Linked DNA regions of Homo sapiens. The protein of the gene in region 1 purifies or fractionates together with the protein of each later gene. This does not show direct contact. Each region holds a gene or a part of one and is shown on either strand. Other genes may lie near its edges. The genes, in order: CAPN8 and CAST.

The links.
Region 2: the proteins of CAPN8 (region 1) and CAST purify together in Homo sapiens (affinity purification with mass spectrometry; 2 studies listed by BioGRID and IntAct, with this or other methods). This does not show direct contact.

Annotation. Positions count from the first base shown.
Region 1 is NC_000001.11:223,658,425-223,674,098, forward strand, and holds the start of CAPN8 (calpain-8), read right to left. Parts: upstream 7,278-15,674; 5' UTR 7,223-7,277; coding exon 6,986-7,222; intron 1-6,985. UniProt on the Homo sapiens protein: Calcium-regulated non-lysosomal thiol-protease. Involved in membrane trafficking in the gastric surface mucus cells (pit cells) and may involve the membrane trafficking of mucus cells via interactions with coat protein.
Region 2 is NC_000005.10:96,653,199-96,669,465, reverse strand, and holds the start of CAST (calpastatin), read right to left. Parts: upstream 7,091-16,267; 5' UTR 7,044-7,090; coding exon 6,969-7,043; intron 6,442-6,968; exon of another isoform or gene 6,330-6,441; coding exon of another isoform or gene 6,300-6,329; intron 1-6,299.

The DNA.
Region 1 (15,674 bases):
CCCCACCCCAGAAAAACACATACACACACACCAAGGAATGTCATGACTGATATGTTGCATGAATCTTTCAGGGACCACAGAAAGTCCCCAGCTTTGGGCTGGGCATGGTGGCTTACGTCTGTAATCCCAGCACTTTGGGAAGCCAAGGTGGGCTGATCACTTGAGGTCAGGAGTTTGAGACCAGCCCAGCCAACGTGGTGAAATCCCATCTCTACAAATAAAAATGCAAAAACTAGCCAGGCATGGTGGTGTGCACCTGTAATCCCAGCTACCCAGGAGGCTGAGGCATAAGAATTGTTTGAAACCAGGAGGCGGAGGTTGCAGTGAGCCAAGATCGCGCCACCGCACTCCAGCCTGGGTGATGGAGTGAAATTCTGTCTCAAAAAAGAAAAAGAAAAAGAAAATCCCCAGCTTTGCAAGGAGATTCCATCTCACTACGATGCCCAAAGAACTTACCCCAAATCTCTCCATTACTAAGTTCCTGTTGAAGCACAGATCAGAGATACAAAGTAATTGGGAGTCAGAGAGGTTTTAAAGAGGCAGGATTCTGTGAAGAGGCAGCCTGCCACCTACCCACACTTAGAACCCTTTTTTATCTTTCCTAATAACAATCATGTCTTTTTAGTAACACTGTTTTCTATTACTCAAGCGAGGATCTCAAAACACTCCATAAATACAAATTACTCTAACCTAGGATCAGCCTCTGATGACCAGGCCTAAGGAAATACAGGTATCAGTCAAGAATCCAAGGCAGAAAGTGACTGAAACCCACACTGTCTCAGTGATGATGGCTGTTTGGCCACACTGCTCTCCTAGAGCGTTAACCATGTCTGATAGCTTTGGTTTGCACTTTAGGAGCTCTGGTTTTTAGAACCCCCAGAGATGCTGCCATCTTCACCATCATCATCTTCAAGTATAGCCACATTGCTTGACCCAGCACCTCCATCCCTCTGTGATCTGGCCCCACTGGATGTTTCCAGCTTTGTCTGTCAGTTTCCCACAGTGAGTGATTATCACTCTCTTCCCATCACAGTGGACTCCCACCTTCCTCTGAATACACTTGCTCCCGATGCACTGCCACAACCCAGTACCTCTGCCCACACCTGCGCCTTCTCTTCAGTCTCTATCCCGATTCTCTTCCACCAACAATCCCAACTCAAACGTCTCCGGTAATTAACCTGCCCCAATGTCACTGTCAAATTTAACTGCTTCTTCCCCTGAACTCCCATACATTGTGTTCATATTTCTATTTATTTCACTCTCTGGATATTCTGTCTTGTAATAACAGCTAGATTTCCTTATTCAAGCATCCCAATAACCAAAGCCTCCAAAAAACAGTGAAGTGGGTAATATTGTTATCTCCATTTTATGGAAGAGGAAACTGAGTCTTGGGGTCATTAGTCATGGTTCCTCAGCTAGCAAATGGCCAGAGGGGACCAGAAACCTGATCTACCTGACGCACGAGCTCATGCTCTTAACCACTCTGTGGCCTGCCAGCTGTCCACTTGTCCGTATGTCTCTCCCTGATGAGCCAAAGCTCCACAAAGACTCCTCTCCAGCACCTGAACACAACCAGCACGCAATAAATCATGGCTAAACTGAAAACTCCAGATTCACTCCAGATGTAGCAGCTGAAGAAAGAGTGGAAGCTCCAAGCTGAGGCCTGTCACCCTCATCCTTATCCTAACCTCCCAACAATTCATCCCCTTGACATTTCTCTTAAACTAGGTCCTTATTATGCAGCTGACATCACTTCATTGCTGTCTTGCTGTATTTCTCCTTAAGATCAATAAACCACTTAATTGCCAAAAAGTGGACACTTCAGGGAAGAATATCATTGACTGCACTGCACCAGGGCCTGCTCATGCTGGGCATTCCTCAAACCACAGGACCTGGGCTGGGCATTAACCAAGCACAGAGGGGAAGCCAGAAAATAAGGAGGCAAAAATCTACCTGCTAAGAACACCCCCGATCTCACATAGCCAACCATGCTGTTTGTGGTAGGATTGTTCTTGCCCAACCCTAAATTGTCTCAGGATTGTGAATAACCAAAAGTTCATCCTGAGAACCTATGCTTGACCTTGAGCCCTTCCTCTGGGCAAACTTGTCCTGAAACCCTTGGGACAAGAGCTCAAGCAAATCTTTGCTCAATTGCTTATGAATAGGCAGAAACGCCCAGCAGGGGCAGGATGTCAAATGATGTGATTTCAGAAAATATCTAAGTATCAATCTTTATTTTATTATTGAGAGGACAAAAACATGTGTACATACATGTTCAACCCATCTCATCTGCTTTCCCCCAAAGGGCGGTAGAAATTAACGTCTGTGTGGGAACCAGGATCATATGAGTCACATTTAGGCAGTGGACTTAAAGCCCCCAACACTGAAGAAGTACAAAATCACCCTCAAAAGCAGCAGTGAAATAAAAAAGCAAACGACACAATTAAAAATGGGCAAAGGGGCTGGGCACAATAGCTCACACCTGTAATCCCAACATTTTGGGAGGCCGAGGCAGGTGGGTCACTTGAGACCAGGAGTTTGAGACCAGCCTCGCCAACATGGCAAAACCCAATCTGTACTAAAAACACAAAAAATTAGCCAATTGGTGGCAGGAGCCTGTGGTCACAGTTACTTGGGAGGCTGGGACACGAGAATCACTTGATTCTAGGAGGCAGAGGTTGCAGTGAGCCAAGATTGAACCACTGCAGTCCAGCCTAGGCAACAGAGTGAGACCCTGTCTTAAAAAAAAAAAAAAAAAGGCAAAGAACTTGGATATATGTTTCTCCAAAGATGATCTACAAATGGTCAATAAGCACATGAAAAGATGCTCACCATCACTGATCTTTGGGGAAATGCAAATCAAAACCACAATGAAATGTCACCTCACACCCATTAGAATGGCTACTATCAAAAAACAGAAAATGGCTGAGTGCAGTGGCTCACACCTGTAATCCTAGCACTTTGGGAGGCCAAGGTGGGCAGATCAACTGAGGTCAGGAGTTCAAGACCAGCCTGGCCAACATGGCAAAACCCTGTCTCTACTAAAAATATAAAAATTTGTTGGGCATTGTTACGAGTGCCTGTAATCCCAGCTACTCGGGAGTCTGAAGCAGGAGAATCACTTGAACCCGAGGGGCAGAGGTTACAGTGAGCCGAATTCGCACCATTGTACTCCGGCCTGGGTGACAAGACAAGAGTGAAACTCCATCTCAAAAAAGAAAAAAAATGAAAGAAAATAACAAACATTGGCAAGGATGTGGAGAAATAGGAACCCTGTGCACTGCTGGTGGGAATGCAAAATGGTGCAACCACTATATAAAACAGCACTGTGGTTCCTCAAAAACTTGAACGTAGAACTGCCATATGATCCAGCCATGGGTCATATCTTTTGGGTATATAACAAAAAGAACTGGAAGCAGGGTCTCAAAGAGAAGTTTGTATGCCCATGTTTGTAGCAGCATGATTCACAATAACCAAAAGTGGAAGCAACCCAAGACCAACAATGGACAAATGAATAAACAAAATGTGGTCTATAGACACCACAGAATACTATTCAACCTTTGAAAGGAAGGAAATTTTGACATATGCCACAACATGGATGAATCTTGAGGATATTATGCTAAGTGAGTTATGCCAGTCACAAAAGGACAAATACTGTATAATTCCACTTATATGAGGTACCCAACATAATCAAATTCAAAGAGACAGAAAGGAGAACAGTTGTCAGAAACTGGGGAGAAGGGCCAGGCGCAGTGGCTCACACCTGTAATCCCAGCACTTTGGGAGGCCGAGGTGATTGAATCACTTGAGGTCAGGAGTTCCAGACCATCCTGGCCAACATGGCAACACCCGATCTCTACTAAAAGTACAAAAAATTAGCCAGGCTTGGTGGCAGGTGCCTGTAATCCCAGCTACTCAGGAGGCTGAGGCAGGAGAATCGCTTGAACTGGGGAGGCAGAGGTTGCAGGGAGCCAAGATCGCGCCACTGCACTCCAGCCTGGGCAACAGAGAAAGACTCTATCTCAAACAAAAAAAAAGAAAGAAAGAAAAAGAAAAAAGAAAAGAAAGGAAACGAAATTCGGGGAAGAATGAATGGGGAGTTTTTAAATGTGTATTTAGTTTCTGTTTTGCAAGATAAAAACAATTCTGGTGATGGAGGGTGGTGATGGTTGCATAGCAATGGGAATGTACTTAATGCCACTGAACTGTGCATTTAGAAGGGGTTAAGATGGCAAATTTTATGTTATGTGTATCATACCACAATTTAAAAATAAATGAGTAAATGCAACAAATGAACTTACAATGCACCACATTTCTGGATACCCTGATCTCTTTGCAAACCCTTGAAAGGCCTCTTGGGAGGAAAAAATAATAATGAAGCATTTAGGATCAGGCTAATTTTCTCAGCATTCAATGCATGTTCCTCATAGAGATAGGATCAGAATCTTTACTGATTCAGGAGTCTATTCAATAACTGTAAGATCTTAGAGGATAAGTCTGCCTTCTCTAATGTACCCTTGTGGTATGTGAGCATGAGCCTGCCCAAAAGCAGCTGTGTGATAATTTTTCACTGATGATTAGGGAAGGAGAGGTTAAATTTTGACACGCATTTATTTACTCAACACGCACTTGAAAACTCCAAATAGGAGTCCTTCAATTGCACCTTCCGCATTACTCAGGTTCTACTGCCTCATGCTCTGAATTTTACTTCCTCCTTTGACAGCCACAAATCAGCACATCCAGTCTACAATTACCGCATTTCCACAGACCACGAGGACAGGTGAAGACATAGTTTGGGGAAGAACAGGCTATGTGGTTAAGGAGGTAAAGTCTCTAAGGATTTCAAAGAAAGGAGAAAAACTAAGCAAAGGTTAACTGATACCTGACTTTGGTCTCTAAAGGAAAATTTTCTCCCCCTCCTTCCTCTCCCCCAAGACCCTTGGGATCTGCAATGGTACCCCTCCCTAAGGCTTTTCACCACCCAGTTGTGACAACCCAGGTTCCCATGGCCCATCATTTATGCCTCTGTAGAGTTCTTACTTCATTCTGCCTTGGGCATCTGTCCTTTATTCACACCTGTGTCTCCCCACACTTTCCATCAGAGCTGAGACCACAGCTCCTTCCTCAGCTTCTCCCTGACCACCTTTCCAATCAGTGCAGAGCCCATGCCTGGCACAAAATGGAAGCTCAAAAAAACTGTCTGTTGAAATGAAATGTGGCTGTCTTGAAATTAGAATAAAAACCATTACTCCCAATCTGGATTTTATCAACATACCAGGGTAACCCTATAGGTTTCAGAGGGGAATGGGAAGATGAACCACGGTGGGCGGGAGGGCAGCATGGCCAAGGAGTTATTCTCAGAGATGAAAACTGTTAGGCAAAATCAGCAGGATCAAAGTAAAAAGGGTAGAGGTAGCTAGCTGGAGTTAAATAGTGATTTTGACCATTTTAGAAGAAGTACTCTCCCTTTGTCTTCCTGTTTCAACCACTGCCAAGAAAATAGGAACCCTGACTTAATTTCCCTATCATGGTTTAGAAGACAAAAGGTGCCCAGGTCATTTCATAGCCCCTCTCCTGAGACGTTGTTATGAGCTCTGTTGAACAGAGCACTTTGTATGGATGAGCTCAATTCTCACAACCACTCTGTATGGGAGAGGTTCTCATCCCTGAGGAATCACTTGACAAGGGTCACATAGTGATAGGTCATGGGTCTAGGTTTTGGGAGGACTGTTCTCCATCCCTTGCCCTTGAGCTTTGGGTAGTATCAGTAACCGCATCCAGGAGCCTCTGCCTTCCGTCTGCATCCACAGAGCCCCAGCTCCCACCTCTCCACTCACCAGCCCTGATGGAATAATGTCAATTCATGACCTTGCGCAACCGTGCACCTTTCAGCAATGATGTTGTCACAATTTACCTGCCAGCTGATTGCATCCAGCACTGAGTTGTTCCATTGTGCACTGGCCCAGGGACCATATGCAGTAATAACAACTACGTATTCTGCATCTATTATGTTCTGGGCACTATGCTCTGAGATTTATCTCTAATTCTCATACCAACCCTGAAAAATAAGGTGCCAGTAAATGCCATTTTACAGATGAGAAAACTAAGGTTCACAGAGTTTACCGGCCCAAAACAACACAGGCAGAGCTAGGATTCAAATCTATCTTACCTAGTTCCAAAGCTCATCCATGCTCTTCTCTCTATACCTCACCATCTCTGAACAAGAGTTCAGGCTGGGTGTAGTGGCTCACATCTGTAATCCTAACACTTTGGGAGGCTGAGGTGGGCAGATGGCTTAAGCCCAGGAGTCCAAGACCACCCTGGGCAACACAGCACAACCCTGTCTCTACAAAAATATGTAAACATTAGCTGGGTGTGGTGGCACGTGCCTATAATCCCAGCTACTTGGGAGGTTAAGGTAGGAAAATCACCTGAGCCCAGGAAGGTTGAGGTTGCAGTGCACTGTGATCGCACCACTGCACTCCAGTCTGGGTGACAGAGTGAGACTCTGCCTCAAAAAAAATAAGAGTTCAAAAGGTGATGGGGGGGCCAGATGCAGTGGCTCATGCCTGCTATCCCAGCACTTTGGAAGGCTGAGGCAGATGGATCACCTGAGGTTGGGAGTTTGAGACCAGCCTGACCAACATGGAGAAACCCCATCTCTACTAAAAATACAAAATTAGCCAGACATGGTGGCACATGCCTGTAATCCCAGCTACTCGGGAGGCTGAGGCAGGAGAATCACTCAAACCCAGGAGGTAGAGGTTGCAGTGAGCTGAGATCATGCCATTGCACTCCAGCCTGGGTGACAGAGCAAGACTCCATCTCAAAAAAATAAAATTAAAAAAGGTGGTGGTGGAGGGATCTGAAATATGAGATCCAGACACTTAGGGTCCACAGCCTCAACTTCTCCCTCAGTTCCTCCTGATCAGATGTAAGGCCCCTCCACCTTGTATGTCACTCAACAGCAAGCCCGCTTCCTTACCGTGGGCCGCTTCCAGATGATGCCTTGAGTTTGCGGAGAGCCTGGTCCAAGATCCTTGTAGCCCAAAGCTGATGGACATGCTGGGAACTCAGGGTCCTTAAATAGGACCCCTGAGTCCAAGCACTGTTGCCTCAGGGTCTTGAAATCCTGGCCCAAGTACTTCAAAGCGTTTTGGTTGGAGCCAAGACCTTGAGTGGCTGCCCGCTGCCTAGATACACCAGCTGCCTGGGCTGCCATGGCCGTGGGCTCTGTAGGGTGGACAGAAGGGCAGGGCTGCACTGTACTCTCAGACACCTGCTCCACTGGGAGGGGAGCTATAAGGCACTAAAGGAGGTGGAGCAGACAAACATTTCACCTGAGGCCCTGTTCCAGAAGGAAGTGAGTCATGGCCAGGGACAAATATGTACCCAAGGTCCAGGCCAATCTGCCCCACCTTCTTCTTCTGCCTTTTGCAAATAATTTGGGGTCTGGGAACTTTCCAGGGCCCATCCCAGGCCATTAGCCTAAGAAATCCATTAGGATCTTGACCCCACCCCGGCATTCCCTCCACACACCTCTTTGCAAGACCTGCTTACCTTGCTTCAAGCCCATTGACTGAGATGAGAAGGCTTATTGAGCAGCTTGAAGCAAATATTCATCAAGGAATTGGAGGCATGGCTCTGAGCAGGAAGAAGGCAAGTAGTTACAGGGGCCTCCTTTCCTGCCAGAAATGTTTTGGTGCATATTTCCTAGGAAGGCAAAAAATACCAGAGAGTAGTGATTCACAGGCCAGATTTGGAATAAGCCTGACTGGAGGAGGTTCCACCTGTGAGTGAACGCTTTGGCCTCTGACTGCCTCGGTTTCTATCCCAGCTCCCCCGGTAATTTGCTCTGTCATGTTGGGCAAGTTGTTTAACCTCTTTTCTCCTAAGTTTTTTTATCTATAAACTGGAAGAGCATAGGAGAGCCTACCACAAAGGGTTGTTCGGAAGAGTGATGAGATAGTACATGTCATCTGCTTAGAACAGTATGAAGTAACATTCAGTGAATGTCAGGTATCACTATTCCTTGAAGCCAGGATTCCCAGAAAGGCCTTGGAATCAGGAGCCTTGATTCCAATCTCAGAAGTGAGTTACAAGCTGTATGACCTTGGATTAGTCACTTCTCTCTGGGCTCCAGTTTCCTACATCTGGTCTACCCGAAGGATGTCAACCACACCAATGCTTTTTGAACTTCAGTGTTTGTGGCACACTAGAAAATGGTCCCCCAAGGATACCAGGTCCTCATCTTGAGAACCTGTAAATAGTCCCTTATCTGGGAAAAGGGTTTTTGCTGCTATGACTAAGTTAAGGATCTCGAGATGGGAAGATTATCCTGACCCTAAATACACAAGTGTCCTAAGAGGAAGGCAGAAGAAGATTTGACAATAGACAAAAAGGAGAGGTGATGAAATGAGGCAGGCAGAGGTTAGCGAGATCCTGCCCCACTCCAGGGAACACCAGCAGCCACAGGAGCTGGAAGGGGCAAGAATGGATTCTCCCCTAGAGCCGCTGGAGGGATGTGGGCCTTCCAACACCTCGATTTCACAGCCTTGGGACTTCTGGCCTCCAGAACGGTGACAGAATACATGTATGTTGTTCTAAGCCACCATATTTGTGGTCATTTGTTACAGAAGACGCAGGAAACAAATATAGTGTGCAGAAGAATCCCCTGGAGCACTCGCTCAAAATGCTGATTCCCTAATAGGTGCTACCACAAATCCTCCACCCCCATCCCTCCCAAAAAAGAGTTCTAATTCAGGAGGTCTGAAGTAAGACCCAGGAATCTGCAGTTTTTAAACCAGTACCACAGAGATGATGCTAATACAAGGATCCAGGGATGCCCTCTGAGAAGCTCTGGACCAGCCGACCTCTGAGGCCTCCAACTCTGACCTTCTAAGCCAATGACAGTCCACGTGTTAAGCACTTAGCTAGGTGGGTAGGTCTGAGCAAGTAGAAAGAAGGGTTGCTCCCAGGTGTTCAGAAAAACATGTGGTTTCCCAGGTTTCATCAGAAACTCAAGGCCAGGCCAGGCATGGTGGCTCAGATCTGTAATCTCAGCACTTTGGGAGGCTGAGGCAGGAGGATTGCATGAGCCCAGGAGTTCAAGACCAGCCTGGGCAACATAACAAGACCCAGTCTCTAAAAAAAAAAAAAGAAAAATTAGCTGGGCATGGTGGTGCATGCCTGTAGTCCCAGCTACTCAAGAGGCTGAGGTAGGAGGATCACTTGAGCCCAGGAGGTCAGGTCAAGGCTGCAGTGAGTCACCCACTCCAGCCTGGGTGACAGAGTGATGAAACCCTGCCTGAAAAAAAAAAAAAGAAAGAAAGAAAGAAAAAGAAATTCAAGGCCAAAATGGCCTTCAGAGGCTAAAGCTAGCCTCAGAAAGACTATGGTCCATGCCCCCTTGGGGACCCCGTCTTCCTTCCCTCAACATCACTTTCCCTTTGATTCCACATCTGCCCACTATTAAGCTCATCTAGTGTTCACAGTTACATTTTCACCGGCCCACACAGTTGACACGGTCTCACTTGGGTGGCCCCAACCACCCCTAAAACCAGAACCACAACTCCATTCAGTCAAAACAGAATGGTCATTGCAAATCTTGGCTGTGTCACTGCCAAGCTTAAAACCTCCAATGGCTGCCCACTGTTCCTGGGAGAAGAGTAAGGGGGATTTTGCACAGCCCATTAGACCTTGAGCAGCTGGCCCTGCCTACCTTTCCTCCTGCTCCATTCTCCCCTCCTGGCTTTCTTTCCATTCCTGGAATGTTGTGTTCTGTCCTGCTTCAGGGCTTGACACCTTCTGTGCCCTCCACCTGAAATGTTCTTCTCCCCACCCCAGCCCTGTTCATCCAGTAGACCTGGGTGCCCCAGAAAAGGTTTTCTGGACAACTCCACACCTCATACTAAGCCATTTTCCCCTCTTATACGCTCTCATAGCAACCTGCAAGACCCTGTCCCGCACCGATTCCTGTAATCATTTAATTAATGCCTCTCCACCCCATAAGGCTCTGATCTCCACGAGGACAATTACCCCTGTTTGTTTTACTCATTGTTGTATTCCTGAACCCTAGAAAGCTCCTGGAACATAGTAGGGACTCAATAAATATTTGTTGCATGAATATACACCTACAGGTATGAGATGTGCTGTGGATAAACGTGCACCAGGTATAATGGACCTGACACCTTCCGGCAGGGTCATTAGTTCATTAGCAAGGATCCTATGGGATTGTTTTTCTTGCCTCTTTCTCCCCTACACCTCCCAGAAACATTCCCCTTAGACTGACTAAAATGAACAAGCCCTTCCTCCATCCAATCACAGAATAAGCACAGCTGGTAATTTTCCTTCTGCACAAGGGAACTCCTTCGAGGTTAGCAATCTCCTTCCTACCCCACCTGCCTGAATTACCTCGCTCCCACATCCAGATGCTGTGCAAACAAACCCTTCCTCATCGAGGCTGGCAGGTCTGAGCCACTGAAAATAGAGCCTTCCTTGTATCCAGGCACAAAAAGAACAAGTGGAGTTGAGAAGTCTCTGCTCCCCAGCGCCTCATGAGCAGACAGCAAACATCTATGTGTTCTCCAGCCAGGTACCCAGGAGGAAGCAGCCTGCATCCACTGTCTCTGTCCACCTGGACAGATGTCTCTCCAGCCTCACACCCCAGGCACCACAGGAACCAGTGCCAGCTCCTTGCCAGGCAGCCTGAGGATCCACTAAGAGGTTGATGAGGGTGTGCAGACACAACTGACACACGCCTGGCAGCACCTCCTTAATAAGAACACTTCTCGGCAAAGAGCCCAGGTGAATGCTGCCTCTTCTCTGTGCACACCAGCCAAGTGGGGATGCTGAGCTGTATCTATACATGGCTCCTCTCAGTCAAAAGGATCAAGGCTGTATTATCCCCTTAGAAAGGAAGATAAATCACTCTGGTTGCACCCAGCGGTCCAAGTGTTCTTTTCAGATGATTAAAGTTTGCAAAGCTTGTTGTCTTGCATAACTATAACTTCAGGGAAAAGATGGGTGCAAGCTAACTGCAGAATTCTCTCTCCTGGGCCTGACAGTTTCAGAATGCTAAGGCAAGCAGGGGTTGAATCCAGTGTCAAGAGGATTACAGAGTTCTCATACATTGCTGGTGGGAATGTAAAATGGTGCCGCTGTTTTGGAAAGCAGTCCAGCAGTTTCTCAAAATGCTAAACATAGAATTACACAGTAACTCTGAGTAACATCCCACTTCAAGGATTGAAAGAGAATTGAAAGCATATGTCTACACAAAAACGTGTACATAAATGCCCATAGGAGCATTATTCATAATAGCCAAAAAGTGGAAACAACCTAAATGCCCATCGATGGACAAATGGATAAACAAAATGTGGTATATGCATATGATGGAATATTATTCAGCCATAAAAGGAGTCCATAAAAGGAGCGAGATACTGTTACATGCTACAACATAGACGGATCTTAAAGACATGCAAAGTAAAAGAAGCGAATGACAAAAGGCCATACATTGTATAATTCCAGTTTTATGAAATGCCTAGAATTGCAAAGCCATAGGGAAAGAAAGCAGAGTCGTGGTTGCCAAGGATTGGGAAGTGGGGCTGACTCTAATAGTTACAAGGTTTCTTTTTTGGGGTGATGAAATTATTATGGAATGAGATGGTGGTGATAGTTGCACAACCAAAAGTCACATTTTAGGCCAGGCACAGTGGCTTACACCTGCAATCCCAGCACTTTGTCAAGCTGAGCTGGGAGCATCGCTTGAGCCCAGGAGGTTGAGGCTGCCGTGGGCTATGGTTGCACCACTGTACTCTCATCTGGATGAGCAAGCGAGACCTGTCTCAAATAAATAAATAAATATCACACTTTAAATGTACACTTTGGCGATGTTTATGTTATGTGAGTTATATCTCAATTTTAAAATTGAAAAGGAGAAAAAAAGGCATTACAGAGGGGAAGGCTGGCTATGATACAAGCATTGGTAGGTGGCCTCTAAGGAAGAGATTGGCTTCCCATCTGCCCAGGATATCAAGTGCCCAGCACATGCAAACAGTTCTAGAGCTGTAAGAGCAAACCCTACCTAACCAGAAGCCTGGATGAGTTGAGATGTGTGGGCTCATTCTCTCTCCAGGTCTGCAGGATCGCTCATGGCATCTTAGGGGTCACAGCTCAGGCCTTCATCCTGGCAGGAAAGGGCTCAGTCAAGGCCAGTTGGGAGGCCAGCTGAGACTGCCCCCTAGAGGCCTACAGATCCTGTTGACCTGGTATGACTAAGTAATGTGGCAAAAACTCACATTTGAATAGAATGCAAGGTCTACATAGCACTTTCCTGCCATGGCTGCTTAGAGATTCACGACAAGTCTGTAAGAAAGATCATATTGTCAGGCTACCCCAAGGTCACTCAAGTAGCAAACTTGAGCCCAAGTCTTCTGATTTTAATTCCCATGCTCTTTTTAAGGCACGCTACCCACACATACCAACAGGGAGATGCGACCTGGGCAGTAGGCTGTGAGATGTGATGCCTAAAAGGAAGAAATCCAATGACTCACTCAGCCCTCCAATCTGCAAGCCATCTCTGTGCCTCACTCAGATCTGCAAGCCTCACTCAGATCTGCAAGCCGTCTCTGTGCCAACACTCCACTGGGCAGGGGTCAATGCTCGTAGGAGGATAAAAGGACAAATAGAGGCCAGACGCATTTGTTCAGGCCTGCAATCCCAGCACTTTGGGAGGACAAGGCAGGCAGATGACTTGAGCCCAGCAGTTCCAGACCAGCCTGAGCAACGTGGTGAAACCCCATCTCTATAAAAATTTCAAAAAATTAGCCAGGCATGGTGGCAGGCACCTGTAATACCAGCTACTCAAGAGACTGAGGCAGAAGAATTGCTTGAACCCAGGAGGTGGAGGTTTCAGAGAGCTGAGATCGCGCCACTGCACTCTGGCCTAGGTGACAGAGCAAGACCTTGTCTCAAGAAAAAGAAAAAAGAAAAGAAAAGAAAAAATCGAAAGACAAATAGACACCATGCCTGCCCACAAAGAACTTCCATGCAGTGGAAAGACCAGGCAATGCTCAAAGAAAGAGTGGTTGATTCTGAGGATGATGAGTGATAAGGAGGGCTTCATGGAAGAGGTGGCCTTCCAGTTAGATCTGTAGGATAAGGTGCTTGAAGGATGATGATTTTGAAAGAAGGCAGTGTAAAAAGGGCATTGGAGTCAAGGGGAACAGCAAGAAAATGGCAAGAAGGAACAGCTCTGCACACAGTGCCAACAGAATATTAATTATCTAGAATGAGATCATTCTAGATCACTCACTCCTGGAGTGAGGCAGGAGGCAAACAACAAGAGGAAAAGACACTGGGGGCCTTGAATGCCATCCTAAATGGATGTGGACTTCTTCTCTATAGTTAGGGTGCAGTTGCTCTGAAACAAGCAAGAATCGATGATGGCTTAATTCAGGTAGTGGCACTGGGGCTGGGCAGGTAGGGAGAGGAGTTCCCAAGTTTACCTCCTCTGTGAGTCCCAGAGGCTGGGGATGAGTGTGGAGGAAGGGAAGACACAGCCAGGATACCTCTTGTGATCTTGTGATTTAATAAGAAATAAGTATTTTGGTCTTTGTCCTCAGTTCCTGGCACAAAGCTTCTAAAATCTTTGTAATTTCCTGGGTGATAAATGTGCTAGGAGCATCTTTTGTTGTAATATTTGGTCTTTGACTCTAGTTCCTGACAGAGCTCCTAAATCCCTGGAATTTCCTGGGAATAGAAGAGTCTTTTGTTCTAATAAGGTGACTCTTGTGGGCTCCTGAATGGGGGCTAGTCACAAGAAAGACCAAGCCATGATTAGAAGCTTGGAAAAAGCCAGGCAAGTTGCTTCACAACTGTAATCCCAGAACTTTGAGAGGCCAACGTAAAAGGATCGTTTCAGCCCAGGAGTTCAGCGCCAGCCTGGACAACACAGTGAGATGATATCTGTACTAAAAATAAAAAATAATAAACTAGCTGGACATAGTGGTACACACCTGTAGTCCCAGCTACTCAGGAAACCAAGGCAAGAGGATTGCTTGGGCCCAGGAGATTGAGGCTGTAGCGGGCCATGTTCATGCCACTGTACTCCAGCCTAGGCAACAGAGAGAGACCCTGTCTCAGAAACAAGAAAGAAAGAAAGAAAGAAAGAAAGAAAGAAAGAAAGAAAGAAAGAAAGAAAGAAAGAAAGAAAGAAAGGAGGGAGGGAGGGAGGGAGGGAGGGAGGGAGGGAGGGAGGGAGGAAGGGAGGGCTTGGAACTTTCAGCCCCACTCCCCATCTTCCAGGCAGGGGAGAGGAGCTGGTGACTAGGTTGATAATCCATCATGCCTATGAGATAAAGCCTCCATAAAAATTCCTGAGCTACAAAGACCTAACAACAGAGCTATCATTATATCTGGCAATCCCATTACTGGGTATATACCCAAAGGAATATAAATCATTCTGCCATAAAGATACATGCAAGCAAATGTTTCTTGCAGCACTATTCACAATAGCAAAGACATGGAATCAATCAAAATGCCCATCAATTACAAATTGGATAAAGAAAACGTGGTGCATATACACCCTGAAATACTATGCAGTCAAAAAAAGAACAAGACTATGTCTTTTACTGAAATGTGGATGGAGCTAGAGGCTATTGTCCTTAGCAAACTAATGCAAGAATACCAAATACCACATGTTCTCACTTGTAAGTGGGAGCTAAGTGATGAGAACTCATGAACACAAAGAAGGGAACAACAGACACTGGAGCCTACTTGCAGGTAGAGGGTGGGAGGAGGGAGAGGAACAAAAAAAGAATAACTATTTGGTACTAGGCTTAGTACTTGGGTGATGAAATAATCTGTACAACAAATCCCTATGACAGGAGCTTAGCTATATAACAAACTTGCTGTATTAGTCCATTCTCACACTGCTATAAAGAAATACCTAAAACTGAGTAATTTATAAAGAAAAGTTGTTTAATTGGCTTATGGTTCTGCAGGCTATACAGGCTTCTGCTTCTGAGGAGGCCTCAGAAAACTTACAGTCGTGGTGGAAGACAAAGGTGAAGCAAGCACATCTTACATGGTGGGAGCAGGAGGAAGTGTAGGGGAGGTGCTACACACTTTTAAGATAGCACTAGGGGGATGGTGCTAAACCATTAAACCACCCCCATGATCTGATCACCTCCCACCAGGCCCCTTCTCCAACACTGGGGATTACAAATTGACATGAGATTTGGACGAAGACACAAATCCAAACCATATTCTGTCCCTGGCCTATCCCAAACTTTGTGTCCTTCTCACATTGCAAAATACAATTATCCCATCTCAACAGTCCCCCAAGTTTTAACTCATTTCAGCATTAACTCGAAAGTCCAGTCCAAAGTCTCATCTGAGACAAGACAAGTCCCTTCCACCCATGAGCCTGTAAAATCAAAAACAAGTTAGTTACTTCCAAAATACAATAGGGGTATAGGCATTGGATAATTACTCCCTTTCCAGAAGGGAAAAATTGGCCAAAGCAAAGGAGCTATAGGCCCTATGCAGGTCCAAAACCCAGCAGGGCAGTCATTAAATCTTAAAGCTCTGAAATAATCTCCTTTGACTCTGTGTCTCACATCCAGACCACACTGGTGAAAGGGCTGGGCTCCCAAGGCCTTGGGCAGTTCTGT
Region 2 (16,267 bases), on another chromosome or scaffold:
TGTGGTAGGACCATAACAAAGAATTCTTGATTGAATGACCATGTTCCCACAAACCTATAAACATTCCCTGAGAAGTAATTTTGCTCTTTTCAGATCAGTAAACTAGACAAAAGAGAAAGAGGCCAAGAAGGTAGCTTGAAAAATTAAGAGACAATGTGCAAATTGGTATTTCCCACAAAAATGCCTTAAAATATATTTGTATATGTATTCTACTTGCTAAAGCAAAATTATTCAGCAAACAAGCAGATGGACCAAAGCTTCTGTAAAGCTGGTTTTGCTTCAGAACAGTCTCCCTGGGTGCAGATCCTAGAACTGTCTGCCTTCAGGTGGATTCCTTGTTCCACTTCTGCTGTGTTCAAATTGTAGTGGAACTTTGCTGGCTGCAATTCTCTTGATGGATGGCCTCAAGTTGGGTTTAGCCAACAGCAGGCGCTGCCAGGAGACTAGAGGTGGTGGGTGGGTGGTATTCCCTTTGCCCCACCCCCTCCTCCAGTAGCACCTCCTGCAGGATGGGTTGGCTGTGGTTCCAGCTTCTGCAAGGTGACCCTTGTCCTCCCTGTGTCCCTCTAGACTAGGGATGGTAGCAGCTTCCTGCAATTTCTAATCTCTGGGTTGCCTCACCCTCCCCTGACGGCTTCCCAGCCTTTTTTTTTTTTACCTGGGTAACCAATTCCCTATGTTACACTCCCTTTGTTTTAAATACTCAGAGTCATTTCTGTCTGTTAGTTGACTGCAATAAACTCTGATAGGGCAGAAACAGCCTAGATTTGTAAGGCTATATGACCGTGACCTTGGGCAGATAATTTAATTTTTCAGTTTCTTTTTGTAAAATAGGGCTAATGGTATCTATCCCAGGGGCTGGCAAATTTATGAAAAGAGTTGACATTAGTGAGGCACCTGGTTCATTGCCTTGTTCATTTTAAGAACACAATTAAAATTATTTCACTCCCTTCTTTTTCCCTGGCAATCTGACTGTGGTGAATTAGAAGCCAGTGAGTTAAGGTTTGAGGGTTTCATTTTCTAAGGCTGTAAACATTAGAACAGAAGAATTTAGTATTTTACTTTCCCTAAAGTACAAAGGAACCTTATCAGGTTCATCTGATTAAGTTTTTGTTTAGTACTTTGTCTATCTCATGACTGTGTATTATATATTATTCTCACATCTTCGTATAACACTCAAGGAGATAAACTACATGGGGGTTAAAGAATTCATTTTCCCAACAAACTACAGCAATTTGGTTACAAGGATGACTTATATTTGCAATTCCCATGCTTTAAAACATGTTGAAAGGGTGTGTGTGTGTGTGTGTGTGTGCACGCGTGTCTGTGCTGGTAGCTGTGACGGTTAACAGATAAAACAAGATTAGGACAATGTTGACAATTATTGACACCAATGATTGGTATATGAAGAGGTCATTATACTTATTTATTTATTTATTCATTTATTTATTGAGACGGAGTCTTGCTCTGTCGCCCGGGCTGGAGTGCAGTGGTGCAATCTCGGCTTACTGCAAGCTCCGCCTCGCGGGTTCACGCCATTCTCCTGCCTCAGCCTCCTGAGTAGCTGGAATTACAGGCGCCTGCCACCACGCCCAGCTAATTTTTTTGTATTTTTAGTAGAGATGGGGTTTCACCATCTTGGCCAGGCTGGTCTTGAACTCCTGACCTTGTGATCCATCCGCCTCAGCCTCCCAAAGTGCTGGGATTACAGGCGTGAGCCAACCGCACCCAGCCTCATTATACTCTTCTCTTATTCTGTGTACTAATGCTTAATATATATTAAGGATTAACTGCATAGCTGTAATTCTGAAATCCCTCTGTTTTCACTGAACCCCAAGTGTTCGTTTTTTCTAACATTTTAAGATTTCAGTGGACATGACAAGATGACACTGTAAAGGTACAGGCCCTTTGTGTCCAATTTTCAGAGGTGGCATCTATTGCCTGTCATAGATTAGCTCCTGGGATTCACCTGAAGTAAGGCTGGATGAGTTTTTCTTAAGTCAAAGGGGGTATCATGAGAATTTAAATAGTTGCTTTGTTGCCACAGCAGTTGTCATGAGAATGAACTTGTAGTTTTATCTATGAGAAATGCAAGAGGAGGCCAGGCACAGACCACTGCACGATTTTTTTGTGTCCACCGCACTCTGCACAAAACTGACACACAGCAGGTGGACAATAAACAACTGTGAACATCTTTGAGCTTTACCAAATTTATTCTTATGTTCTATGAGTTTCCTACAACCAAAACAAATTTCATACATTTTTAGGAAACTATAACTTTAGACCTTTTTCTTCCTGAGTTAACTGACTTTTCCATCTGAGGAGATAACTTACATGAACAGTGTTTATTGGATGGAACTGTTCTTGCATTTTTCTTAACTGGAAGACATCTGATATACTTCCCCCTGCCCCCCGCCTTTATGGTGGCTGTAAAGCTTTCTGGGTATGTTTTCATGAAAGGAAAATGAGACAACTCAAAGAACAGAACTTTAGTATCTGTTAATATGATTTTCATCTTAAAAATACCTCAAGGGGGAAAAATGATGTACTACTTAGAGTAGTTTTGTATCTGCTGAGACAATCTAGTCAGAACTAATTACCCACCTATCCACATGGAATCTCACATGACCCCCCACTGTTCCCACCCCCAGAAGGCTATAGCATTCTTTAAAAGGCACCTGTAGAATATAATTAACCTTCTGGGAAGTGCCAAAACTGATTTAAAGAAAGATATTATCAGATGCTACTCTTGGTTTAAAAGGCTTATACACAATGGGGCGCGAACTAATTCAAAGACTGTCAGCTGAAAGAGAAAGGCTGTATTTGACCTCTATGTTTCCATTACCCTAAAGTCTATGCCCTTTTTGCAGGCCCTGTTATTTGCCTTCCTTAGTTCTAAAATTCACTGTGAGCAAGTGATCTGTCCTGCCATGGAAGGCTTGCAACATTCTTCCCAGGCTGGCAGCAATGATGGGGCCTCCCAAATGACTGGGCTCCTTGATCATGCTGTCACTAGGTCTATGGATCTAATTAGGCTAAGAAACACCTTTAATTAACATAGTCTAATAGAATCAACTGATGATTCAGGAATGTGATGACTGGTGTGGGCCAAATTAACCTTCGTTCATGCTTGATCATTACATAGCTCATAGATGTTCTTCAAATTTAGCTCTGCAGAGTTGTGTGGTGTGTGTGTGTGTGTGTGTGTTTACTACAACCACATTTTTCAGAAGATAAAGTCAATAGGATTGATGGCATTCAATGTGGAAATATACATTGCAACGTTTCACTGACTAGCTTTATAGGTGGCATGCTGTTAAACGAACACATCTGAGACATGTCTTTTAATTATTTCATTTTATTCTGCCTAAATTTTGAAAGTTAGATCATTTATAACCTTTTCAGTACTTAAAGGATTCCACAAAGATATTTTAATTATAGGATTTACCTGAAGTATTCTGAGATGTCTGTGTATATACCGATATCTGTGTTTATATCTGTAGATATATATGCATATAAATCTGTCTATATATGTATTATACATGCATGTGTACATACAGACAGACATCTGTATTTATATCTGTAGATACATACACACATAAATCTAGATGTCTACATATGTATTATACATGCATGTGTGTATTATATATAAATATGCACATATATGTATATTGGATTGTATATGTTTGTATGTGTGTATGTATATGTGTGTGTGTGTGTGTATGTGTGTGTGTGTGTGTTATAAACTGGCTCCATGGACCTTTGGGGGATTTATGGGTGGTCTTTTGGAAATCTCTGAACTCCCTGAAGCTATATTGGAAACTGCATTTTGTGTATGTTTGTATGTATTTTGTTGTGGGAAAGCAGTCCATAAATCCCATTTGATTCTCAAAATTGTCTGTGACCACCCACCTATCACCAAAGGAAAAAAAGAAAGTTTAGGAGTCCATGGTCTAGCGCTATACTGTCCATTACTATAGCCCCTAGCTGCTTGTGGCTACTGAACACTCTTGAAATGTGGCAAGTGTGAATTGAGATGTGCTGTTAATGTAAATATACATTGGATTTTGAAGAATTAGTATAAAAAAGAATGTAAAATATCTCAATGGCTTATACACTGATTACATGATGAAATAATAATATGTGGGATATAGTAGGTTAAGTAAAATATATCAATTAGCACAAATTTCACCTGCTTTTTGTTGTGATGTTGTTGTTAAAGTGGCTCCTTGGAAATCTGAAATTGCAGACGTGGCTCACATTATGTTTCTATTGAATAGCACTGGTTTGGGCAAAGCTAAAGCTTGATCACAGGCATGTAGCTGGTTCTAGGAAGTTCCTACTAGCAAAAAGTTTTCATGGTAGTACCAAAATGGGATTCTAAGAGAGGTTTTAGCAAAAACATCAGACTGTGACTAAACAAAACAGGGTTAAAAGCATAGATTCAAACTACTTTCATCCAAGTAACCCAGCAGAGTTTCCTTGAGAGAATCATGAGTCTGGAAGGAGAATTTTGATGTCAACTCTGAACTACTGCTATCCATATTTGCAGATAAGGTACATGGTACATTTTGATAAGAACCTTAGGCCAATAATGACTCAAAGCAAATTGATGTGGTTTGTTCTTACCACATCAATCAAATGCTACATGTAAAAGCCCAGGAAATGTACTGGAAAACATTCATGAAGAAGTATCTCAAGGGAAATTGGAATTCCAAATTCTTAAAAGTATATGTGTATGACATTTTGACTTTTAAATCTAATTAGTCCTCACCAATACTTATGTAGTGCATATAATTTCTATTTTACACATGTGAAAACAGGTTGAAAAGGTTGACTTATTTCCATTTGAGAAAAACTCTTTGTTCTCCACAGTGTACATGGAGGCTTTAAAAAGCACCTGTAGGCCCAGTGCAGTGGCTCATGCCTGTAATCCAACATTTTGGGAGGCTGAGGTGGGAGGATTGCTTGAGACCAGGAGTTTTAGACTAGCCTGGGCAACATAGTGAGAGAGACCCTGTACAGTATATTGTATGTGTGTGTGTGTGTGCATATATATATATATTTACACATATATATGCACACACATATATATGCACACACACATATATTTACATATATATGCACACACATATATTTACATATATGTGTAAATATATATATGCACACACACTGTAAATATACACACATACACACTATACATATATACTATTTATATAGAAACGGAGAATAAAAAATAATCTAAAAAAAAACACTACTTGTGGGATATAATTCTGCCTGGCACATAATAGATGATCAATAAATGTCCATTGTCTGATAAGTAACAGTTTCTTTCTTGATTCTTATACAGGGTAGCTAGCTCCAAAGAATGTCTGATTCCAACATCTTTGCTTTTTCCAATACCACATGCCAAGAGAGAAAAAGACATACCTAATTTTTTAATTCTCACCATAAATCAATGAGACATAAACATTTTGGCTCTCACTGTCAACAAAACTCCTGTGTGTGATTTTTTTTTTTTTTTTTGGAAAGCAATCTAATGTTAAATCATGCTTCCTGGTTCCAAAACACTAGAAGTGCCAGCTTGACTGGATATTACACCTAATTGGCAGGACAAACATTCAATGCACCAAACAAATGGAATGTTCTTGTCCCTCATCCAAAGTAATAAAGTGCAGAGAAGCTCGCTTTTGTGCGCGCTGTCTCTCTCTCCCTCCCTCTCTCACTTTCTCGCTTTCTTTCCTCCACCCCTCCACCGCTCTCTCCAAGGGTCTTGGTCTCAGATCTCAGTTGCTTCTGCCCCTTGATGTTTGGGATTTTCTCCTTGCCTCACATTGCAGCTGCCTCTCCTTTGCGTCGGCGAATGTACGTCCAACAATCGCCCTCTAAAAGTTTTGAACTTTACTTAGGGGTTAAAAAAGAACTCTAGATCAAAGCTCTTGCGAGCTGCGTCCTAGTGCATTCAGGAATCCACCTCCTAGACAGAATTCCTCCAGCAACAATTCCAGTTCCATCCCACTTGTGAGCGCCAGCAGAGCATAGTGCTTGACATCGGGGCGAGAGAGGTGCATGCGCCGCGCACGCTCGGGCGCGCTCATACATACCACAAGAGGGTGAGTCCCCTGCCTCTCCCCGAGCCTAACCTGAAGGTCTGCGAGGAGGTCGCACCCGGTCCGCACCCCTTCCCCGCCAAACCCCGGACAACGCTTCATCCGCACGCCCAGAAGGGCAAAGCAAACACACTCCCTTCCAACACACTCCCTTCCGGGTCCTGCCCAGGCACAACCGCTCCTATTTACCGTCTTGTACCACCAGCTGGCGAATGCCATGGCAACAACCGGCTGGCTCCGATCCGCACGGCGGGGGAGCCGGCGAGGGCGCGGGGTGTTGCGTTGGAGGCGCCGGGCTCACACTCCGCTTGGCCGGGACCGGGCTGGCACTGAGCTCCGCACATCCCAAGGCGGCTGCCAGGTGGGCAGAACCCTGGGGGTGGGGCCCGGCGCAGGCCCCGCCCCTCCTCGCCCGCCCAATTTGGCTCGAGGCTGGTTAGGGAAGAGGCTCTGCGTCTCCAGGCAGCCACGCCCTGCGGCCCGGCCTTAGCGCGGAAGACTACATCCCGCTGTCCAGTGAAACCACCCCACTCACTCGGGGGTCCTGAGTGAACCTCATTCCCCGTTCATCCTCATCCTCATTCACCCACGTCTTACCAGCCAACTTTTCTTGACGCGTCCCCCCCTCCACTCTACCCGGCCAACGCCACGCCCAGCGCACTGGACCCGGCCGGGGAACCGAAGCCACCTGCAGCCACCTGCCTGGCAGCGGCCAAGCCCCTAGCCCTCTCCCTGCCCCGCGGGGGCGCCGGGGACTGCAGACCCGCCAGCCTGGCAACGCCCAGGGAGGGCGGCCACAGCTCCGGGACCCGGTACCCCATCGCCCAGCCCCGCGACGCCGACAGGAGCGCCACTCACCTCATGGGTGCGGCGGGCGGCGGCTGCTCGCCGGGGCCGCGGGGAGGCGGCGGGCTTCTGGCCGGGCTGGGACATGGCGAGGCCGCTGCGGCCGCTGCCTCCCGGAATGCGCCGCGGAGAGTGGCGGGGAGGCCTGGCGGGGAGTCCTGCCAGGGAGAGAGGGAGGGAGGGAGGGAGCGGAGGGCCCGGGAGCGGGCGATGAAACAGCTTTTCCGACCCCACCCCAGGTCTGCGCCGGGGTTCCCCTAGCCCCGATGGGCCCTCCCCTTCCTGCCCGCGGAGGGACCCGGGCTCCTGCCCTGTAACTTAACACCCTCCGCCCCGGTCCTCACCCGGTGACCCGCCCCGGCCCCAGCACTGCTCTGGTCCCGGTTGGTCAGAAAGAAGGGGTTGGAGGTTGCAGCGTTCCTCCTTCGATGCCCAGATCTAGCTTGCAGTTGTGCAACGAGAGAGCGGGACCCGGGCGTGGCCAGTCTACGCTTCGACCCTCCTCCCAACAATCCGGAGAAGTAGATACTCTTTCTACATTCTGCTCCGCTTTAGCTGCGAGAGTTTACCAACTCAAATCTGGCCCAAGCCTGGACAGTCTAGATAAGGAAGCGGATCACAAAAACAAATTGGTCTGTGTGTGTGTGCGTGCGTGCACGCGCCTGTGTATGTTTTATATGATTTTACTTTGTTTTTTGGCAGTTTCGAATTTTAATAAACTTTTATGGGGAGGAGAACATAGGTTCCAATGCAAAACGGAGAACAGTCCCAAATTTAAACCCTTATAGTCTTTCTAGAGTCTGGCGAGTTTTGTTTCTGAAGCTAGATTGCTTTCTTCTTGGGCTCATCTTAAACAGCGCTTCCTGGTTTGGGGCTGGAAGTGAAATTTAACAAGCCCTACGTGCTTATGTGAGAAACTGTCAGCCTGCAGTTGCTGCTGGTTCACAATCAGGCCTGACAGAAAACCTGTTTGTTACCCTGCAGTAGCATCATCATTCTGGGACTTGGGGTCACCGCTTTCTGCAGCGTTGGGGTTTAGACAGTTGAAGAGAGAGAAGGCAGAGCCTTTTTTTTTTTTTTTTTTTTTTTTCTGGAGAGGCAGTTTCGCTCTGTCTGGAGTGCAGTGGCGCGATCTCTGCTCGCTGCAATCTCCGCCTCCCAGGTTCAAGCGATTCTCCTGCCTCAGTCTCCTAAGTACTTGGGACTACAGGCGCGTTGTCACACCCAGCTTTTTTTTTTTTTTTTTTTTTTTAATGGTAGAGACGGGGTTTCACCACGTTGGTCAGACTGGTCTCGAACAACACCTGACCTCAAGTGATCTGCCCAGTGCTGCCTCCCAAAGTGCTAGGATTACAGGCGTGAGCCACTACAGCCGGCCAGAAGGCAGATTTTAAGGAGAGATTTGTCATGCTATATGGAGCCTGGCAGAACAGAATTCTGGTTTCCTTTGTACCTCCTCATTTTAGGAATTCTGACTTCTTCTTCAAAGGATAGGCTAGCAGCATTCTTAATTTTGAGGGAGGGGATGCGGGGAGAAGAGGATTTAAATGCATTTCCTCTTAAAGTGTCGTACTTACTGTCTGTGTATCTAGTATTTCAACAAACAGGTAGCACTGCAGGAATTTATACATAAAAATGAAACAACTTAGATATTGGGACTATGTCCACTCAGGAAAAACAAATGATTGTTGGCATCGGTTACATTCAGAAAGGAGGGAAACTATGCCATAAGTCTGAAAACAAGATCTTCTTATGATTGTGACCACACCACTACAGTAATTTAAACAAACACAAAAGCTGTAGGGGTGAGGTGACAGGCAGCTCCTCCTTCCTGGCCTCCACCCCAGGAACTAGAATGATTTTCTTACTGGGGAGCCTACATATCCCAGAATCAAGGTTTTAGATCCCTGGAGTACTTTATTCAAACTCTGGAATGGTTTCCAGTGACTTGGTGGCATTAGAGTTTGAGGTTATTTTCCAACAGAGTATTTAAAAATTGAGTTTAAACCAGTTATATATTTCTTGAGAGTATTCTATGTAAAACATTGTGAAAGGACTAGTAGAAGGAGAGATATAGAGATTAAAAAGATACATTGCCTGTCCTCCAGGGACTGACAGTTTAGCTGAAGTTATATGGCATTTGTAACACATGATGGTGTAGGGATATTGAAAGACCTAACAGTGTGTGAGTAAGTACAAAGGTGTTTTGGGAGTTTGGGGTTCCACAGGGGTTGTATCAACAATAGGAGGGAAAGGAGGAAGGAGACATGAGCAGGCTGGCTAGCTGGTGAGGTGTGAACAGAAGGAGAAGGGGTGGGGGCACCTGACGAGATAAAGAGGAACCCACTCACCTGGCTGGAGCGGAGGGTCTATGTAATGGAGTAAGTAATCAATCTATTCACCAGCTCATTGTTTGTGGAGCAGCTACACTAATACATGATATATTAGGTATCAAAATCTATAAGAGGTAATAACCCTAACCTTCAGGCTTAGCTTAAAAGTCAGAACTCACATAAGCAGAACAATTGCTAAACAATGCATTAATGACTATGAGTACAGAAGAATTTCAAAGAAGCTGAAGACCCTGATGTTTTGCTTTTCCTTGTAGCCAGTGAAGAATTATTGGAACTTTGATATCATGGACCAGCATTTACTAATTTGGGGAAGCTCCTTTTAAATATAGATGGTGCGGTGGCTCATGCCTGTAATCCTAGCACTTTGGGAGACTGAGGTGGGCAGAGTGCCTGAGCTCAGGAGTTCGAGACCAGCCTGGGCAACACGACGAAACCCCGTCTCTACTAAAAATACAAAAAACTAGCTGGGCATGGTGGCGCGCACCTGTAATCCCAGCTACTCAGGAGGCCGAGGCACAAGAATCGCCTGAACAAGGGAGGCAGAGGTTGCAGTGAGCCAAGATTGTCCCATTGCACTCCAGCCTGGGCGACAGAGTGAGACTCTGTCTCAAGAAAAACAAAAACTAAATATAAATAAATAAATGGCTTTTGCCACATTACTGTCTGCACATAGGTAATCATTTATTCCTTTATTTACTCAGTAACAGATGCCTGCTATGGGGAGGTACTGTAGACCTCTTACACTAAAGGACTTTACAATTAGAAGAGACAGACAAGTAAATACAGGCATACCTCATTTTATTGCTCTTTGCTTTATTGCATTTCACAGATACTGTGTTTTTTACAAAATGAAGGCTTGTGGCAACCGTGCCTCGAGCATGTCTGTCAGCACCATTTTTCCAACAGCATGTGTGTTCACCTCATGTCTACCCACATTTTGGTAATTCTTGCAACACCTCAACCTTTTTCATTATATCTGTTACGTGATATGTGATCAGAGATCTTTGATGTTGCTATTGTAATTATTTTGGGGCACCACATAGTGCACCCATAGAAGACAGAGAATTTAATTGATAAATGTTGTGTGTGTTTTGACTGCTCCACCAACTGGCTGTTCTACCTAGGAATCGATTTGCATATAAATATATACTTGAAAGAGAATCCTATAAAGAAATAAAAAACAGAGCCAAAGAAACATCCAGGTAGATACCACATCGCATTTGCTGGAGATTGCCATATTTTGGCAATACATCATAGTGGGTAAAGCATAAGAGTTTTAGATCCACACAACTATGTTTAAATCCCAGCTCTGCCACTTATGGACTGCATACCTCAAGCAAATTACTTAATCACTTTGAATATCAGTTCCCTAACCTGTTACCTGTGGATGATAAAGCTGAGTACCTACATCCTAGGGTTATTCTGATGATGGAATAAGGCAGTGTATTAAAGCATTTGGCACAGTGCCTCATGTATGATAATTGTGCAAATAAATGCTGGTTGCAATTATTAAATTGCATTTATTATTAATAGTTAAAAATTTCAAAACCCCTGAATGTTCTTTGGACAGGGGCAAAGCAGTTTTTGTTGGATCCCCAGTAAGAAGCAACCTCCTGTCCAATCAATGAATGTTATAGATCTGTTTCCATTCAACCAGCATTCCAGACATTCTGTAGACCATAAAATGAGCCACAGCTGAGCAGTACCCTAGGAAAGCTCTAATCCAGACCCACATACCTGAGCTGGCAGCCAGAATTCACGCTGATGTACTCATTCCCAATAATGGGTGCTTTTTCCATTTTTCCATTTCCTTTTTTTTTTCTTTTTGGTTTGCTTCTTTTGTGTATGTGCTGATAGAGTGGCTGGTTATTTGAAATAACTTTAACATTTGTTAGGCAACAAGAAACCAAATTTGGGATGATGTGTGCATGGTAATGAACTTACTAAACCCAAAGTACTCCCGTGTTCCTGTCCTGGGATAGGTGCAAGTTCGTCATGGCCCCTCAGATCTGGAGGCAACACAGAAAACTGAGTCACAAAATTACATTTTTTTTTTTCAGATGGACTCTCGCTCTGTTGTCCAGGCTGGAGTGCAGTGGCATGATCTCGGCTCACCGCAACCTCCACCTCCTGGGTTCAAGTGATTCTCCTGCCTCTCAGCCTCCTGAGTAGCTGGGATTACAGGTGCCCACCACCACGGTCATCTAATTTTTGTATTTTTAGTAGAGATGAGGTTTTGCCATGTTGGCCAGGCTGGTCTCGAACTCCTGACCTCATGTGATCCACTCGCCTCGGCCTCCCAAAGTGCTAGGATTACAGGTGTGAGCCACCGTGCCTGGCCTACAAAATTACATTTTCAGACTAGCAAGTGTATCTCTGGAAATCAAGTTATATTTTTGAAATCTTGCCACTTTCCACTAACTTTCATTTTTCTCCCACTCACAAACACCATCTTATGGAATTAATTTTCTATATAGAAATTTTTGCAGCCCAAATATCTGTACAGCCAACTGCTTGCTTCAAATATTTACCAAAGCTAGATTAATTTTTTAATGTGCTATTTCTGTCTGGAATATATCTAGACCAAGTCATTCATAGGAATCAATTTTTATTATAAGAATTATCATATTCTTGTCATATTGAAGATTTTGAATCAATTATCTTTTCCTTTCTATATATCCTAACCTACTCCCTCCCACTCAAAAAATTGTCATCTAAATTTTCCCAGGCCTAGACTTCATTTCCTCCCTCAGCCTGTCTTTTGTCCATTAATAGGTATTTCTTGTAGCCTATCCAGAAGGCATGTAGATTGGGACGATACACTGAGCAAACCACATTTCTTCACTATAGCAAAAAAGAAACCACAGTTGGTCATCATGGTGACTCACCCCAGGCTTCTACCGCCACACCCAAACCACACAATACTGCAAACTCTTTGGTTAGATTTAAGGCAGAAAATAAAGCCATCCTGCAAAGCAAGATTTTTATGTTCCAAGGTACGCCTAAGGTCACCTCTCTTTGGTGTTTGATTATAAAATAGTCTTGATCCTTCTTGTTGCAGATCACTTCACATTACATATTTATTGGTGTCAGGTTTGTTTTCATTTTTGTTTCTTTCCCTGCATTTGTTTCCAGCTCAGATTATTGTATAAAGAAATGTGCCATTTCTAAGAGGTTCTTCAATTGCCTGCAAGCCACAGTGTTTTTTTTTAATTAAGAAAAAGTGTCTCTTTGGATTTAATACTCAAAGTCATTTGGGGCACATGCAGAATCTTGATTCCTTTGAATCAATATATAAGAATTCACTAGTTTCTAGAAAGAAGAGTTAAGAGCATGCACCAGGGGCCATTTGGAATATCTGCCCGGCTCACCCCTGTTCCTCCTTTGGAGTAGAATTCCAGATCCCATCATGGCTCCCCATTGCTCTATCCCTCTTCTCCACAGCCCACAGTTGACTGGACCAATGGTAGACCTGACTTGAACTGACCCAAACGGGCAGGTTTTCTTTCCTCATTGGGAGGTGGGGACTGAGTAATGAAATTAAGATGAAGATAGAGGAAAAAACTTTCTGGGTGCTAAAAACCGTAACGTGAAGCATGTAGACCTGGGCTTCACTGTGGAAACTGAGGACCCGGAAAGTCAGCCCGCACAGGAAGAAAGAACAGGCCTGCCAGGGAAGCAGAGATAGGAGGAGACAGAAGAGGGCTGAGCTTCCTTACGACCTTCCACTTAATGAGCTGCACTCTCTAGTGAGGCCCAGTTGCACTCAAAAGGCTTTGGTTCTGGGACGTACGCTATAGCCTTCAAAATAATCTCCCCTCATTTTTGTTTTAACAGTACAAGTTGCTTTTTCTGTTATTTGTTAACCAAGAGTCTCAACCAATTCAGAAACTAAGCAGAATATGCATAGAGTATACAAATTGTTCTTAAGTAAAGTTCTCAGTAATTTTTCCAAACTTTTTTTCCCCGTGGTCCTCAGTAAGAAATACATTTTACATTGCAACTAGTACATATAAATGCACATGATTTGAACATGAAGTTTCATGGAACAATTCTTCATTATCTATGATCAGGTAAAAACAATGAATAATGTGAACTATGTTTTATTCATCTGTAAACACAAAGTGGAAACAAATCCAAAACAAACAATAAAAACTAAAAATTAGGAAATATTTTACTTAATGCTCCAGCTATCTTTGCCTGTTCATGTTTATTACAGTCTGAGACACATGAAGATAATGCTACCTGCATTTCTGGTGCACTGTTCAGCCAGATTTTTTTTGTTGTTTTAATTGGCTGAAGATTGAAAATCCCGATTTACACAAATAGGCTCTTGAGAATGTTAACAGTGGCAGCATATTCTGATATTCAACTTCTGTTCTACTTTATTCAAATTTCTTTTTTAAACTGTTGATGATGACTCACTAAATGTCATAACCAACTATTGTGCCCACAGTTTGAAAAACAGTAAGCCAGAATATATTGTTAAATTGCCTACTACTAAGATGAGCTAAGATAAGGCAAATGCATTGCAAGTATCTGCAGTAGATCCTTATTTGAGCTCAGACATCTGTCCTTTTTTAAAGCTCTCTAGAGGGGAATCCCAGTTTTTCATTCACTACTGCAGATCATTTGTAACAATTCTCTTTATGTGGAGAGCCATCTGCATTTGACTGCGGACTGCCATTCAAATCCATTTCTTCTTGTCCAGTTTTCAGAGAAGATAAAGAATAGGTACTCTAAAGCTTCTCTTTGCCTGGGTCTATCCTTCTCCCTGCCTTTTCCCTCTTATCCACAGAAAGCCAGCTTCCCAGCCACACTGGTCTCCCTACTGGACCATGCATGACCCGTGCATGCACTTTCCCTTTCCTGCATTTTTCCATGTTGCTGTTCTTCCGAGAGACATCTCCCATCTGGTTATCTAAATCCTGCACATTCTTCAAGTAGCAGGACATGTTTACCCACCATCAGGTCTTGCTCATCACTCTGCCCCACATCTTTTTTGTCCTTTTCTGATCACCTATAGGTCTTGAAAGGTTTCTATTCCATATTTATTGACACAGAAAAATATTCAGTATCCTCTTAGAAGGACAATGTATTTATAAAATAGCATGTACATTGTAGAGCTAAAGATAGAGCTATACATCAAGAAATTAACTAGATGTGAGCATTTGGGTAATTCTATTTTGGTTTTATTTTCCCAGTTTATGTTTTCTTAATGTTTCTTATATTTCTTAATGGTTCTTGCAATAAACACATAGTATACAATAAAAATAATAAAAGGAAAGTCTTAACTTTTGAGCTAGCTATGAAGGTCTTTTATCATGTGAGCCCTCCCCAAATTTAACACAAATATACATGGTCTTTATTTGTTCTCTTCTTGTGTGCTCAGCTTCCACTTCCAAATGTATTGCAATATTCTTGAAAATCCAGATGCCCCTTTTTTGTTTTTTCTTACTTTTCATTTTCCAATTTTGATATAACAGCAAGTTATTAATGAACTTACTCTTGATAACATCTGAGTGTAGTCAAGTAAAAGCTTATGCTGTGTATGTCTAGAAGATATTTGTGTTATATTTTACTTCCTTCAAACCACTGAAAACTCTGCAAATATTACTTCTCAGATTAAAATATAACATCGGAGAAAAAGAGAGTGCTTTGTTTTTGAAACTGGTAATATACAGTAGCTATGCACACTACACGTGAGGTTTTTTTGCTTTCATTATGTACTCCACAGTTTGGTTTTCTTAAGAAAAAGATATAGGAAGCATAAATGAGGAAAGTAGTGAAAGTGAAAGAAAGGTAAGAAAAAGAATTGAAAAAAGAAAATGGGCCGGGTGCGGTGGCTCACATCTGTAATCCCAGCACTTTGGGAGGCTGAGGCAGACAAATCAAAAGGTCAGGAGTTTGAGACCAGCTTGGCCAATATGGTGAAATCCTGTCTCTACTAAAAATACAAAAAAATTTAGCCAGGCATGGTGGTGCACACCTGTAATCCCAGCTACTTGGGAGGCTGAGGCAGGATAATTCCTTGAATCCGGGAGGCGCAGGTTGCAGTGAGCTGAGATCGCACCACTGCACTCCAGCTGGGCAACAGAGTGAGACTCCGTCTCAAAAAAAAAAAAAAAGAAAAGAAAAGAAAACGATAAGGAGAAAGGAGAGATACAAGGGAAGAGAAAAGAGAGAGGGGAAGAAGAAGAAAAAGGAAAAAAGGATAGTTAAGCAACAAGAATGAAAAAGGGGAAATTAAGTAGTATTTTTAAGGGGAAACAACAAATATTAGACTAAAACTACCACTAGAAAAATACAGAATAAGACTCATAGTTATTTATTTATTTATTTTGCTTTTCAGTCTTTCAAATACTTAAAGATAATTATTTTGGCCCCCAAATTCTTTTTTCTTTTCTTTCTAAAGAAGCCAAAATGAAATATTCCTTCGTCTTCTAAATATTGGGTTAAGATACAAGATAAAGATCTGAGAGAAAAGAAGAAAAAGAAAAGAGCTTTTAAATAATTTTTATTTCATCTATGATTTACCTTTTGCTTACTCTAATCTAGGACTTTATATGCATTTTATAAACCTTCACAGCAATGTTACGAGGTTTTATTTGTACCCTTATTTTACAGAGAAGGAGATGGGTGTTTTAAGAAGGTAAGACTTCATCCACAGCTGGGAGGTGGCAGAGCCAGATTCCAAAGCCAGGTCTACTAACTACACTTCCTCTCCAAATTGTTGCCCTTTCTGGAGCAACAACTCAATTGTTCTCTTTTAATCATCTGTTTTTCTAGGTCTCCCAGAACTCTCTAGATGAGACAGCATTTATTTATTATGAATTTATTATGCAGTTGACTTTGAGGAAAAAAATGTGATTAAAAACACATGTCTGGCATAACTTCAATACCAGGTGGGGTCTAGCCCTGCCCCAAGGCAATGAATCTGGACTGGTTTGCCTACTC